Linked DNA regions of Homo sapiens. The gene in region 2 interacts genetically with the main gene of each other region. Each region holds a gene or a part of one and is shown on either strand. Other genes may lie near its edges.

Evidence for each region. A genetic interaction does not mean that the proteins touch.
Region 1: changes in TRAPPC13 (region 2) and DAZAP1 together harm fitness more than expected from each alone (negative genetic interaction), as found in Homo sapiens cells (one large-scale study listed by BioGRID).
Region 3: changes in TRAPPC13 (region 2) and MAN2A1 together harm fitness more than expected from each alone (negative genetic interaction), as found in Homo sapiens cells (one large-scale study listed by BioGRID).
Region 4: changes in TRAPPC13 (region 2) and IGF2BP1 together harm fitness more than expected from each alone (negative genetic interaction), as found in Homo sapiens cells (one large-scale study listed by BioGRID).

The regions. Positions count from the first base shown.
Region 1 is NC_000019.10:1,414,086-1,417,585, forward strand, and holds part of DAZAP1 (DAZ-associated protein 1), read left to right. Parts: intron 1-3,414; coding exon 3,415-3,455; intron 3,456-3,500. UniProt on the Homo sapiens protein: RNA-binding protein, which may be required during spermatogenesis.
Region 2 is NC_000005.10:65,659,527-65,663,026, forward strand, and holds part of TRAPPC13 (trafficking protein particle complex subunit 13), read left to right. Parts: intron 1-1,172; coding exon 1,173-1,371; intron 1,372-2,523; coding exon 2,524-2,624; intron 2,625-3,500.
Region 3 is NC_000005.10:109,818,927-109,822,426, forward strand, and holds part of MAN2A1 (alpha-mannosidase 2), read left to right. Parts: intron 1-742; coding exon 743-961; intron 962-1,293; coding exon 1,294-1,416; intron 1,417-3,500. UniProt on the Homo sapiens protein: Catalyzes the first committed step in the biosynthesis of complex N-glycans. It controls conversion of high mannose to complex N-glycans; the final hydrolytic step in the N-glycan maturation pathway.
Region 4 is NC_000017.11:48,995,920-49,000,184, forward strand, and holds the start of IGF2BP1 (insulin-like growth factor 2 mRNA-binding protein 1), read left to right. Parts: upstream 1-1,465; 5' UTR 1,466-1,826; coding exon 1,827-2,001; intron 2,002-3,189; coding exon 3,190-3,250; intron 3,251-3,349; exon of another isoform or gene 3,350-4,265. UniProt on the Homo sapiens protein: RNA-binding factor that recruits target transcripts to cytoplasmic protein-RNA complexes (mRNPs). This transcript 'caging' into mRNPs allows mRNA transport and transient storage.

The DNA.
Region 1 (3,500 bases), on a different chromosome or scaffold from region 2:
GCTCAGTGCAACCTCCGCCTCCCGGGTTCAAGCAGTACACCTCGAGCTCAGCCTCCCGAGTGGCTAGGATTACAGGTGCGCACCACCGAGCCCAGCTAATTTTTGTATTTTTAGTAGAGATGGGGTTTTGCCATGTTGGCCAGGCTGGTCTCGAACTCCTGACCTCAGGTGATCCGCCCACCTCAGCCTTGCAAAGTGCTGGGATTACAGGCGTGAGCCAGTGCACCCATCCCCACTGTGTGTGTTTCTACTGAAATATTTGAGAGTAGCTGGAGACCGATGCAGTCCCCTTTATGTGTACACTGAGATATCTATTGTTTCCCAAGAACAATGACATTCTCTCACATGAACACAGCACAGTGATCAAAATTGAGAAAGTGGCCGGGCGCAGCTACTCACGCCTGTCATCCCAGCACTTTGAGAGGCCGAGGCTGGTGGATCACGAGGTCAAGAGATTGAGACCATCCTGGCCAATATGGTGAAACCCCGTCTCTACTAAAAATACAAAAATTAGCTGGCGGGCGCCTGTAGTCCCAGCTACTCGGGAGGCTGAGGCAGGAGAATCGCTTGAACCCGGGAGGCGGAGGTTGCAGTGAGCTGAGATCGCGCCACTACACTCCAGCCTGGGCAACACAGCGAGACAATTTTTCAAAAAAAAATTGAGAAAGTATTTATTATTTTTTAAAATTGTATTTGAGTATTTTTTATTTTTTTAATTTTATTTAAGAGTATTTTTTATTTTTTTTTTAATTTTATTTAAGAGATGAGATCTCTGTCACCCCTGCTGGAGTGCAGTGACACAATCACGGCTCACTGCAGCCTCGACCTTGACTCAAACGATCCTTCTGCCTCAGCCTCCCAAGTAGCTGGGACTACAGGTGCCTGCCACCACCTGGAGTCTCGTTACGTTGCCCAGGCTGGTCTTGAACTCCTGGCCTCCCGTAATGCTGTGATTATAGGCGTGATCTGCGCCCAGCTGAGAAAGACAGTACTGATACCAGGTTATCTAACCCCCCCGGCCCTGTTTCAGGTTTCTCAGCTGAGCGTTTCTAGCCCTTCCCCCTTAATACACAATTTTTGAAATTTAAATGAAGACCGAAACTGGACTGGTCTGACGAGTTCCTTCTGCCAGTGAGGTGGGGGTGGAGGGGGTACTGGGCTGCTTGGAGGACACCTGCCTGTTACCTGGCTGTTGGGTGGGTGCAGTGCTGACTACAGGCTGCTGTTTCTTCAAGTGACTTGGATTTGGTTTGGTTTTCAGGGTTTTATGTGTGTGTGTGTGTGTGTGTGTGTGTGTGTGTGTGTTTTGTTTTTTTTTTTTTTTTTGAGAACTGCTTGAACTTTAATTCCAAAGGATTGTGTAAATGAGCATTTTTCCGGTCGGTTCCAGCCAGGCTTGGGGGCCCTTCCTTCATGGGGTGGGGGCTGCTGCTGGCTCCTGCTGGGTGCCGGGCCCTGCTGGCAGGGATGTGGGCGGGGCTGGCCCTGACTCAGCGCGGGCACAGCCTATGGAGAGTGAGGCACAGCCTATGGAGAGTGAGGCACGCGGAGGCCTCGCTCCTCCCACGGTCTCTAGGCCTGACCTCAACGCTCCCTGGCCTGATTGCGAAGGGTGCGTGGGAGACGTAGGATTTTAAGTTAATGAGGCCTCAACCTAAGCCTGTTGCTGTTGCGTGATCAGCATGGTTTTCCCTGAAATTTGCCTTTTCAGATCTCGTCTCTAAGGGTCAGGAAGCACAGGGCGGCTGGCACACCCCGCCTCTAATTCTTCCCGCCTCAGCCCTCCCCACCGAAGAACGGGGCTGGGGGGTTGCTTGTTGACGTTTTGAAGACGGCAGTGGGTGCCTTTCCTGTGGTGGGAACATGCTTTGTTTTTCACACACTAAATTTAAATCAGTCGTTCTTAGGGAAAAAAGAAGGAACAGGGACAAGCTCCTGGCGGTTGGCTGTGGCAGACACTTCACCAGGGGCTGACTCGCGGGGGCTGAGTGTACAGGCCCCAGGTGGTGGTTGATGAGAGGTGATGAGTGTGCCAGCCACCTTGCAGGGGTCTTTCCTGGCGAGCTGGCAGGAGCAGGGAGGAGCACGTTGCTCCTGCTGCTGGTGGGGCAGTAACGTGTTCAACCTGACAGCGACGTTTTTGCTGAAAGCCGAAGCCAAGGGTGGTGTGGTTGGCCGTCAGGGATACAGGGCCCCGCGTGGGAATGGTGCTTTCAGTGAGGCTGGCAGGATTCTTGCGGCTCAGGTGGGAGCTTTGGCCTGCACGGTGTTTTGCTCTCTGGAGACCAAGGGTGATGATGGTGCTGGCACTGAGTCACAGCTGAGATTCAGCTCAGGGACTTCATTTCTGAATGCGTGTCCTCTTTCCCAGGGAAAGCAGGCAGGATGGGAGAGTCGCCGATAGAACCACCTCTTCCCTGCCTCCTGGGCTTGGGGGAAGCTTGAATGACATCTAAGGCCCCGTGCCTGGGTAAGCCTTGTGGTGTCTCAGACATGCCCAGTGGGTGCCATGGCTGACTCAAGGTGGCACAGTCCCCATTGGGAGTTGGCACAGTCCCCATTGGGAGTTGGCACAGCCAAGGCCCTGGGGCCACCTGGAGCGGCAGTGAGGTGGAAAGGTGAGTGGGCCCTTGGGCGTCGCTGCAGGGTCGATGGCGGACGCCTTGGGAGAGCTCCAGCTCTTCTGCCCGGAGGAGACAGCCCCAGGACGGGGGTGGCGCGGGTCTTTGGTGGGGGCAGGCAGGAAGTGCCAGTGCTGAGACTGAATTTCAGGCCCTTCTCATCTGCCAATAAGAGACAGCCCCAGAATGGGGGTGGCGCGGGTTTGTCGGGGGTAAGTAAGTGGGGCCAGTGCTGAGACTGGAGCTTCAGGGCCTTCACCTTCATCTGTGGGCCTCTCGTTAGTTCGTGAGTGCAGGCTCATTGGGAGGCTTCTGTCTGTGTCCCCCCACCCCCGCCCCAGGCTGTAATTCAGAGGCCGTGTGGCATAGGCTTCTAGTTTACTGTGCATCATTTCAGATGTAGACTTCTACATTCTTTTTCCTGATTATAAAATACTCGCAAAAGCTGTAGGAAAGCGAGCCTGTGTCCCACTTGGCAGCAGTGCAGGTGAGCGTGGTGCCGTCACCACTGGCCTGTCCCAGGAACTCATCGCCCGCCACGCATGAGGTCAGCGTGCGGCTCTGTGGCACGGTCCTCTCCCCATGGCAAGGATTGGGATCATCTTTCATGTCTGCAGACAGCATGGGCGAGGCTGACTCGCCATTGCTGTGAGCTTTGTATGCCGTCACGTGCACAAGGACGTTTGCGTCAGCTGCTTCTGTGGTTTGAATTAAGACCTCAGCTTGGCTTGGATGGGGGCATTTCTAAGGCGAGCGCTGTCTTGATCCTGAATGTTTTCTCATTGAATCGCAGGAAGCTCTTCGTGGGCGGTCTTGACTGGAGCACGACCCAAGGTAGGTGGGGAAGGGGTGTCAGGTGGGTACTGCAGATGGGCTCTA
Region 2 (3,500 bases):
GTAAGGGTGAATGTGGGTTTAAAAAAAGAAATACTCTCTCAACATCAAAAGAAAAGGACATAGGAATAGATGGTTTAATACTTTGTGAAAAGGAAATACATACACCTTTCCACAGCTAATTTAAAAGAGGAAGAATAAATGTAAAGTTGACAATAATACAGATAAGAAAGTAATAGGCTGGGTGTGGTGGCTCATGCCTGTAATCCTAACCCTTTGGAAGGCTGAGGCCAGAGGATTGCTTGAAGCTATGAGTTCTAGACCAACCTGGGCAACTTGGCATTTTTTTTATTTAGCTGGGCATGGTGGTACACTCCTGCATTCCTAGCTCCTTGGGAGAGAGGCAGGAAAATCGCTTGAGTCCACAAGTTCAAGGCTGCAGTGAGCCATGATTGCACCACTGTACTCCAGCCTGGTGACAGAGAGAGACCTTGTATTTTAAACAAAAAAAAAAAAAAAAAAAAAAAGAAGAAGAAGAAGAAGAAGGTAATAGCTTGGGATAGCATCTGAATTTCTTAATTAGGAATGAAAAGTTTGCTTTTATATTCTTAGGTTGGTTACACACAGAAAAGTTCATAGCCTCTTTCATCCTCACTGAGGAAAACAATTTTCCATTCTTTTCTAGATGTTTTAGTTCATTTTGAAAATTAGTTTAGAATGGTATGTCTCTTATTATTCTAAACTCTTATCTTTGATAATTTTAGAGAAAAGAGACAGGATACTTAAGGTTCTGGTTTCTGTTGCACTTTTCAGTTAATTGATACATGTTCAATTTTATAAGTAATATATTACATTCTATTATAAAGAACCTCCTTGAACCCAGAAGTTAGAAGTTACAGTGAGCTATGATCATACCACTGTACTCCAGCCTGGGTGACAGAGCAAGACCCTGTCTCTTAAAATTATTTAAAAAAAAAAAAAGGGACCCCTGCCTTTCGGGGTCCAATTACTATAAAGAACCTCAAGATTTTCGATATCAACTGAAAAAAATGAAGGAAAAATAAATCATTGCAGTATACGTTCTTTTTATTTGTATTGAAATCGTTAACATGTTCTGTTGTTGATCTTTGGAGGGTACATCATCCAGTTCCTATCCAAAGGAACAATCACAGCCATGGTTTTTCTTTTAAAAGATGCTAGAGAATTTTCTCCGTCTCTGTCTCCACCCCTCTCAGTGTGTCTACGTTTGGGTCAAGAGCATATTTGCAACCAATGGATACACGCCAGTACTTATACTGCCTAAAGCCAAAGAATGAATTTGCAGAAAAAGCAGGCATCATTAAGGGAGTAACAGTAATTGGAAAATTGGATATAGTATGGAAAACAAATCTAGGTGAAAGGGGAAGGTTACAGACCAGCCAACTTCAAAGAATGGTGAGTCTGGAAAAAACTTCGCTGGGGTTTTGGTGTGTGAAAGACAGGTAGTTAGAACAACTTAATTTTTTCTACATCCAGCAGTAAAAAATTGGAGCACTATAAAAGGCATTACTACTACTGGAGCAGAAAAGATTAATAGTGTCACTGATAGGTAGGTCGAAGACTGGTGTTGCCATGAATGAAAAATGGTCAAATGTTAATTTATCCTTAATACACGTGTTCTTTATCACACAGAAATTAAAATAACTGTTATTAAGTGTCTCTCCTTTGGTAACACATGCTCACTCTTCTTCTGATTTCCAAACACATTAAGGTTTTCTATTTTGCAATGTCCTGAAACTCTTGGACTTACTTCATTCACCTACTCAGTTCCTACCATTTTTAAGATGTTAAAAATCTGAGGCATCTCCTCAGAAGGTGAGTTCTACTAAAGTTATCTTATAAGCATTGGTTGCATATTTTACCTAATTTCTTCTCTGAGAGTAGGGATAGCTACCAGGCTTCTTTTTCTTATGCTTGTAAGAATATACGACAGGATTCTCCTCCCTTTATGCTGAATATTACCTGTTTTGACATATTCCAAATTTTACTTTTCTTTCCACTGTTTGAGGCAATAATTTTTAAAAAATGATGATGATGATTCCTGGGCCCACTTAAATATAGCCGTTAGTTATTTTTCTGCCATGGCCTGTTCCAAGCCTTCGTGTTGTTATAATCCATCCTCATCTGTGCGTCTTGTAAAAAGTCATGATTTTCTTCCTGGCTCCTTTCAACATCATCCCCCTCTTTCTTTAGAAAATAACTTTACCTATTTAGAGTTACACACATAGAAGCTACAGCATCTGGAAAGTGTCCCTTCAACTCCCTGAAATTTCTTTACTGACTACTTACCTGTGAGATTCATCTTAACTCTACTGAACATGGAATAATTATATAACAAAAACAGTCCAGGTCTGCCAGGCTATTCCACAGGCAGTAGCTGCAAAAGAATTTAAAATGAGAGACAAGTAAAGTGAATCAGAAGTATTTTCTTAGAACATCAGCTTGGAAACCCAACAGCTGTTGAGTAAATGTGCTGCTGTGGTGCCTTCATTAAAATGGAAAGGTTTTGTGATAGATATACATTAACTGTGTTGCTTGTTTTCTTAGGCTCCAGGTTATGGAGATGTTAGGTTGTCTTTGGAGGCAATACCAGATACCGTAAACCTTGAAGAACCTTTTCATATTACCTGTAAAATAACAAACTGCAGGTAATGCCACTGTTTGTAGATGGATGTCCTTTCTACCTCACCTGCCTAGAAGATAATTTTAAAATCTTTTTGTTACTATCTCCTTTTAAGTTTTCCTCTTGACATACAGCCTTCTCTGATGTTGATATTGAGTACTGTAAAATTCTTCATCTGGTAGCAGTATAATTACATATTTTTAAGGGCCTATTGTATTATGCATCTTCTGTATTTTATTTCATTCATTTGTCACACCCTATGAGGTAGGTATTCATTGTTTATACTTCCTTCACCAAAACATGAACTAATAGGTTCTTATGTATTAATATATTATGAATTGAAGTAGCAAGATTTTTTGAGGCATGCTTGTACTTGAGCTGTATCTTGAGTATTAAGAAACCAAACATTGCTTATGGATTTAATGTAAGGGGAGATCATTGATTCGAAAACTGGGTTTTGACAGTAAAGAGAGAGCATAATCTGAACTGTCAGGAAGCAAAGAGCACAGGGCTTTGAAACCAGAAAAAAATAGAATTAAGTTCCAGTCCTATGCCCTCTGCTCCTACTTGTATTACCACTTGGTTTGTATTATTATTTGGGGTATTTTTATAATATTGCAGTGATGAATCCTAGTCCTCTTAGTGTGAATGTATAATCCTTTTAATTCCATATTTATTCTTTTTGGTATTAGAAAGATAGGAAATATTTATCCTTCAAAATTACAGAAATACCCACTTCCTCTATGAAGCTACCTAGACTTTCCAAAGCACAGGTATTCATGCCTTCTCCATCATAGAAAATTTTAACTTAGTTTTTTAGTGACACTCATATATTGTGTATTTAGTGACACTCATATATTACTGTAAGTATTAGTCTCTTTCTCACTGGACTGGAATTATT
Region 3 (3,500 bases), about 44 Mb from region 2:
AGGACCCTCTGGGGATAACAAAATCTATGGATGCTCAAGTCCTTTATATAAAATGGCATAGTACAGATGATCCCTGACTTACAATGGCTCAACCTAGATTTTTCAATTTTATAATAGCGTGAAAGTAATGTGCATTCAGTAGCAACCGTACTTCAAGTACCCATACAACTATTCTATTTTTCGCTTTCAGTATAGTATATAATAAATTACATAAGCTATTTATATTTAGTATAAAATATGATTTGTGTTAGGTGATTCTGCCCAACTGTGGGCTAATTTAAGTGTTCTGAGTACATGAAAGGTAGACTAGGCTAAGCTATGATTTTGGATAGGTTAGGTGTATTAAACACCTTTTTGACTTACGATATTTTCAAATTCTAATTGGACATAACCCAATCATGAGTTGAGGAGCATCTGCATTTGCATATAACCTGCACACATCCTCTTGTGTATTTTAAATCATCTCTAAATTACTTGTAACATCTGATACAATGTAAATGCTATGTAAATAGTTATTATACTATAGTTTTTATTTGTATTTTTTGTTTTTTGTTTTTTTTTCAAACATTTTTTATCTGTAATTGGTTGAAACTGTGGACATGGAACCTGTGGATATGGAGGGCCAACTGGATTCTCTTTTTAAAAAATATGATAGTTTGTTGGTTTTACCAAAAATATAAATGGTTTGCCTCTCAGTAGATAACATTTATCTTTAATAAATTCCCTTCCCTATCTTTTAAAGATCTCTTTTCGAGCACATATACCGCCATTGGGACTGAAAGTGTATAAGATTTTGGAATCAGCAAGTTCAAATTCACATTTAGCTGATTATGTCTTGTATAAGAATAAAGTAGAAGATAGCGGAATTTTCACCATAAAGAATATGATAAATACTGAAGAAGGTATAACACTAGAGAACTCCTTTGTTTTACTTCGGTTTGATCAAACTGGACTTATGAAGGTATGTTCTGAATAGTTCTAAAATTCATAGAATGCTTATCATTTTTGCTACAATGTGTGTAGATTAATTAGGCAAAAGGGGAAAAAAGTCTTAAGTAGAGCTGTATCAAATACTCTTGAGTAAAAGGAAGCATGAGCTTTTTGCACCTTCATTGACCACTTGCTGCTCACATGTATAGTCTGTGGGTGGCGCTACTCCGTGGTCTGTGTGTCACTGGTCCACCAGATAAGTACAGAAATTATTTTTTTAAATTGTCATATACATAGAACCAGATGCAACATGCTTAACATCTTAGTGGTGAGTTGCTTATTATTATTTTTTTTAATCTTTAGCAAATGATGACTAAAGAAGATGGTAAACACCATGAAGTAAATGTGCAATTTTCATGGTATGGAACCACAATTAAAAGAGACAAAAGTGGTGCCTACCTCTTCTTACCTGATGGTAATGCCAAGGTAAGTGGTACTGATGAGATGACAAATGGAATAAACACTTATTGAAAGAGTATTGAGGAAAAAGATAAGTGAGTGTCATTATTTTATCATCTGTTGATTTATTAGGGATAGATGAACTTTTGGTTGCAGTATTATCTATCACCTTATTGATACTTAGCAATTTGTAGTCGAAAGTTAGATAAATGGTTGGGCGCAGTGGCTCACACCTGTAATCCCAGCATTTTGGGAGGCCAAGGAGGGTAGATTGCTTGAGCTCAGGAGTTCAAGACCAGCCTGGGCAACATGGCAAAACCCCTTTTCTACAAAAAATACAAAAATTAGGCATGGTGGCCTGCACCTACAGTCCCAGTTACTCAGGAAGGCTGAGGTGGGAGGATGGCTTGAGCCCGGAAGGCAGTTGCAGTGAGCCAAGATCACGCCACTGCACTCCAGCCTGGGTTGACGGAGCAAGACCCCGTTAGATAAATAGTTTTTTAGAGTTGGAATTTGTTAAGATGCTACAATGAACAATGTTCAGTTAGGATAAACAATGAACATGGGAAGAAACTAGATTTTACGTAGAGTTAGGGAGCTTTATATGTATGCATTTTATACAGACACAAAACCTCTAGCCGTATGGGAAAAATAGATTTTCCACTGGACCATTTTTCTCCTTAACTTTCAGCCCTTTAAAAAACAAATCTTTCTCACTCTTGACTATAAAGGTAGTAATACGCAAACTCTGGCACATTTTGAAAATGCCAGAAACTAAAGAAAACATTAAAATTTACCAACAGGTGCACAATCCCATGAAAACCATTGCCAACATTTGGATGTATTTCTTATTGTCTTTTATTTTATGCATATCCTTTTCTCCCCGTTCTCAAGTCTTGACTTATTGCATGTACATATTTTGTTTTTCATTTGTGACAGTGCTCACAATCTGATGGTATGTTTTTTAAAAATCCAATTTTAATATATACTGTTGTGTTTAAGATGTTGCTTATATTCTTTTTCTCCCGATTCTTCACTACCATAACATTGTAATAAGCTTTCTTTGTAGCATTCAAAAAGAATGCTACAATGCAATTCTGATTAATTGCTGAGAATAACTTTCTAGAAGAGTCATTTTGTATCAGTGTCTGAAGTCTTTTAAGGACTTTTGCTGTGTACTGCTTATCTTCCCTCTAGAAAGACTAGGTAAATGTTCAATCCCACCAGCATTTTTTGAGATTAACTCTAAAATCCCACTCCAAGCACTGAGAATTGGCCATATTACAAGCTTTGCCTATAATAGTAAGTTAGTAGAAAAATATTTTTCTGTTAAGATTTTTGTGGTTACTAGTAAGGTTGAACGTTTTTGTACCTTCATTTATCTTTCATATTTCTTTTGTGATTTTCCTATTTCTATTCTTTGACTGTTTTTCTGTTGGTGTGTCCTGATGATCTCTGAGCACTCTATATGTGGTAAAATTAATCCTTTTCCCTATATGTTGTAAAATTTTTCTTATTGTGTCATTTAGTTTGTTAATTATTTTATTGTATTTCTCATTTATAGTGGTTTTAAATTTTTGTGTAGTCATTTCTTTTTTTTCTGTAGAGTTTCTTCCTTTGCTTTTATACCTTTATAGGTTTTCTATACCTCAAGATCAGTGAAATGTTATCCTAATTATTGTCTTGTTAGCTAGGGACCTATCTCCTGAAAAAGTTACTTTTGTTCCACAAGTTATGAAACCTGCTAACTAAAATCCAATACTGGATTTTAAGGGATTGTGTAGGCTACAGTAAGGACTCTAGGTTTTTTGTTTGTTTTTGTTTTTGGTTTTTTTTTTGGCTGTTTGGGGTTTTTCTTTTTTTTTTTTTTTAAGTCAGTGAAGAATTAAAGACAAACTACAACTCATATGAGGCATTCCAGGATGGGCAGTGAGTCCCAAATATGAGCTGTTTCAGTGTTTTCTCATTCACCAGCTTTTGTCATTGGACATTTTATTTTGATTGACTGTATTTATACTTAAAAAAGTAGTTGTGCTATAGAATTTCATGCGTAGATACCAATAACTAATTTATTTAAAACCATTTTATCTTTAAATAGCTCTAATGTCAGA
Region 4 (4,265 bases), on a different chromosome or scaffold from region 2:
CCAGCCTCCGCCGCTAGAAACTCGTTGGCCTCGCTCGCCGCTCCGCCGTGGAGCCGGGGCTTGCCCGTGGACCGCGCGTCCCGCTCTCCGCCGCGTATCCGGGACTCCGAAACGCGCGGCGAGCAGCCCCCTCCCCCACCGCCCAGACGGGGTGCGACCGCCCACGTGTCGCCCCTTGCCCAGTCGGGTCCTTCCCTCGGGCTCCGGGAGCCGGAGGATCCGGAATGAGTTGGTCAAAGCCGAGGGAAGGGACCCAGGCGGATCCGCTTCCCCCTCCCCAGGAACGGCGGGAGGAGGAGGGGAGTGGCCGCCGCCCCCTCCCCTAAGCTCCCGCCCCTCGCTTCCCCGTGCGCGGAGCGGAAATTACCCCCTCCCCCCGCGGGTCTGACCTGGGGACGTGGGCGGGGCTTCCCGCTTAGCCCCCCGCCCTCCGTCCCTCTCCCGCCTTCCCGCCAGGATCGGAATCCTGCACCCCAAACAAAGTTCCGAGACCCGAACCTAGGGCCTAGAGAGCTGCCAGCAGTGTCCCGGGTGGTGCAGGCTCTGGAAACTCCACCTGTCTGTCCCCGACTCTGGGAGGGAAAAGGGGACCATTCAAATCTCCACCCGGTCACTCCCTCCCTAAGACCTCCCCCTTCAGTTCGCTCCGGTTAGCCCTAGCTATCACTCCTCTTCCTTGTCTCCCACCGTTCCTGTCTCCTGGAGTCATCTCCGGCCAGTTCCGCGTGTTCCCCTCAGGACCCCGAAACGTTATCATTTAACAGCCGGACCCCGGGTGCGAACCACCCTTTCTCCCGTGGGGATCTCAAAACATTATTTCCTGCGGCTTCCTCGTTCTCCACTGGGATACCCCGTTCCCAGCTTTCCAGTCCCGCGCTCGCAGGGTCCCCCGGTCCTGCATCCCCGGAGGCGGGGGAGTTTCGTGGGGCTGGCGTGGGGAAGGCGGAGACCCCCCCCATTTAAACATCTAGGGAAAAGGTTCCTTTCTTTTTAAATCACCAGCTCGTGCGACCCTCTCCTGAAGACCCCAGAGTCTTCGGCTTCTCTTTGTCTGTCTCGGCCGTCCCCCGCCTGTCAGTCGCTAGCAGTTAACCGGGGAGGGGTGAGCAACCCCGCCCCCCAAAACGAATGAAAAATAACCGTACATTTTACCCTTTAAGACATGTGAGATCTGGGCTGGACCATCCTCCCCCAGTTTGGGCTGGGGTAGGGGGATGGGTGGGGGCGGGGCGCTTCCCTAGGGGCCAGGTTCTTGCAAAGGGGGAAGGGGCCTGTAGAGCTTCAGGGACGCTGCCGCACCGCCCCAGTTTACCCCGGGGGTGAGTTGAGTTCCCCACCCTCAGGCGGGAGATTATCGGGTTTGGCCGGAGGGCCGAGGGGCCCTGTGGCGTCGGGGGTCTTTCCCTGCAGGGTGGGTGGGGGCTGTCACCACGTGGCTTCTCCTTTTTTTTTTTTTTTTTTTTTCCGCTCCATTTTTTTTCAAGTCGATTTTATTTAGAGGCGGCGCCAGGGCGGCCGCGGAGAAACGTGACACACCAGCCCTCTCGGAGGGGTTTCGGACCGAAGGGAAGAAGCTGCGCCGTGTCGTCCGTCTCCCTGCGCGCCGCGGGCACTTCTCCTGGGCTCTCCCCGAACTCTCCCGCGACCTCTGCGCGCCCTCAGGCCGCCTTCCCCGCCCTGGGCTCGGGACAACTTCTGGGGTGGGGTGCAAAGAAAGTTTGCGGCTCCTGCCGCCGGCCTCTCCGCCTCTTGGCCTAGGAGGCTCGCCGCCCGCGCCCGCTCGTTCGGCCTTGCCCGGGACCGCGTCCTGCCCCGAGACCGCCACCATGAACAAGCTTTACATCGGCAACCTCAACGAGAGCGTGACCCCCGCGGACTTGGAGAAAGTGTTTGCGGAGCACAAGATCTCCTACAGCGGCCAGTTCTTGGTCAAATCCGGCTACGCCTTCGTGGACTGCCCGGACGAGCACTGGGCGATGAAGGCCATCGAAACTTTCTCCGGTAAGAACACAGCCACCTCCCGGAAAAGCCACAACGAGAGCCCCGAACAACGGAGACCCGCACCTTCCGGTTCCTCTCCCGCCAACTCCTCTCTTCCCGGGCCTGCGGGGTTTGGCCTCCGTACCCACCCTCGACCTACCCCCTTCGATGCCCCCTCCCTCGCTCTGCGCCTCCCACCCCCGCGCAGAAACATTCGGGATTTCCTCATCCCTTTCTCCCAGCCTGAGATAAGGAGCTCTGGCTTCCCCCATCCTTCCTCCCCACCGACGGGGCGGGAGCCCCCACTGGCAGTAGTGGGGGGTTGAATTTAGGGACACGGGGATGACCCCTGGCTGGGCGTTATTTCCACGCCCAGCCCCTCCCTATCCGCCGGTGGACGCCCCCCCAGCTGGAAAACCCCGGCTCCCGTTCCTCAGTCTTAGGCCTTTCCAGGCGTGGAAGGGGTACCCGGACCGCCTGCGATCTGTCCGCTTCGCGTGGGGAATGCAGCCCTCCAGCAGGACTTGCAAGGAAGGGGGTCTTGCCTCCCGCCCAGGGCCTGGGGCTTGAGCCATTTTGATTTGAAAGTGGGGCGTGAGCGGGGTGGCGCGGCGGCGGCGGCGCCGGGTCGCCATGCTGCTTCCCGAGACGCCGAGGCTGGGCCGAGAGGCGCGCGCGGTGGCAGTGAGGGACCCTCCCCGCCAGGCCCCGCTCCGCTCCCCCAGGTCCACCCCTTCCCAAACCAGCCCCGACAGGTGACCGCTCCGTGGCCCAAAGCCCGTCTTCCTGGCCAACAGAGAAAAATAAAGTTTCATTCTGCACACTGCCTCCCGCCCCGCGCCCCACTTTCTGAGGAACGGGGAGCCCTTTCTTTCCTGGCTCCTTCCCACATCTGGGAGCTGTGTAGGCAGCGCACCCACACAAATGGCCTCGCACCTTTCCCAAATCGGGATTCCAGAGCGATCCACTCAACAAGCCTCAGTGATTTAATAAAGCAAAAATTAAAAAATGAATAATAACGAATTTACAGACTCCACCATTCCTAGAGCAACCTTTTTCCCATCTGGATGCGGAAGCCACTGCCTGGATTCCTAGGAAGATCTCGAATCCCAGTAACTCCTGAATTATCCTAGTGTCTTTTCCCCTTCCTCTTCCCACCCCCAACCCCTGTTCAAGCTCTCATGGTAATTTTTTTTTTTTAATCTTTAGGGAAAGTAGAATTACAAGGAAAACGCTTAGAGATTGAACATTCGGTGCCCAAAAAACAAAGGTAGGAAAGAGCTCTTTTCGGGGGGGGTGGGGGGGCCGCGGGGGTGTGCTGTGAAGCTGTGTTCAGGGGTCCATAGCGTCTCCAGTGGAAGAAACCCATTACTGGTCTTTCCCACCCCCAACTCCGGATGTTGGGGGCAGGGAGGGAAGATTGGCCAAGATCTTGTAATGGGTGGTTTACAGCTTGTAAAAAAAAAATAAATAAGTTGGGGCTGGGGTAGGCTAAAAGATGTTACTTGCAGAATTAAAGGGGAAAGAAAATCAATAGGGGAGAAACCTTGTGGAGTTTGTTTGTTCAACTCGTGGGGCCGTTTTTTGTGGGGGAACCTTAAAATCTTTGAAGAGTTCAGACTCATGGCGATTTCTGCAACTTCGTAGCAGGCCTCATTTTCTGTTTTTCCCACTCTTTCCACACCATAATTCTTAAGTGGATTGCCCTTCTCCCGAAGCGATGTGGAATGAGTTTCCCGGCCCCCAAAGAATCCCCTTATGCTTGTACTTTATTTATATTTCTACAACAGGCAAAGACTTTTTATTTTCCATGGACCCCCCACCCCCAATCCCTCATATCTCACATCATCCCTCTCCCCAGCTGGATTTTCCAAAGAATATGCCTTGGCTGTACTATCCTTTTCGAGCCCCCCTACCCCCACTCCTTCAGCCCATTGTTACCAGGGGACCATCTGGGGTGAGAGCTTTGTGTTGAGGCTGTGAGCTGGGGCTCTTTGGAGGGTCTAGAACTCCGTGGATGAATGGTGTGTGTGTGTGTGTGTGTGTGTGTGTGTGTGTGTGTGTTCGTGTGTGTTCCAATACCCTCTATCCTCTCTCTTCAGCAAAATGGGGTACCTCCATCATACTTACCGAGAATTCATGGTGGATTTCAAATCTTGCATTGAACTCTGAAACCTTTCCTTGAACTCTGGCTGGGAAGTATAAGGGCAGAGTCTTTCTACTTTCTCAAATCAGACTTTAAACATGTTGACAGTGTAGAGTTTGCTCTCATGTCCCAAGCTGGA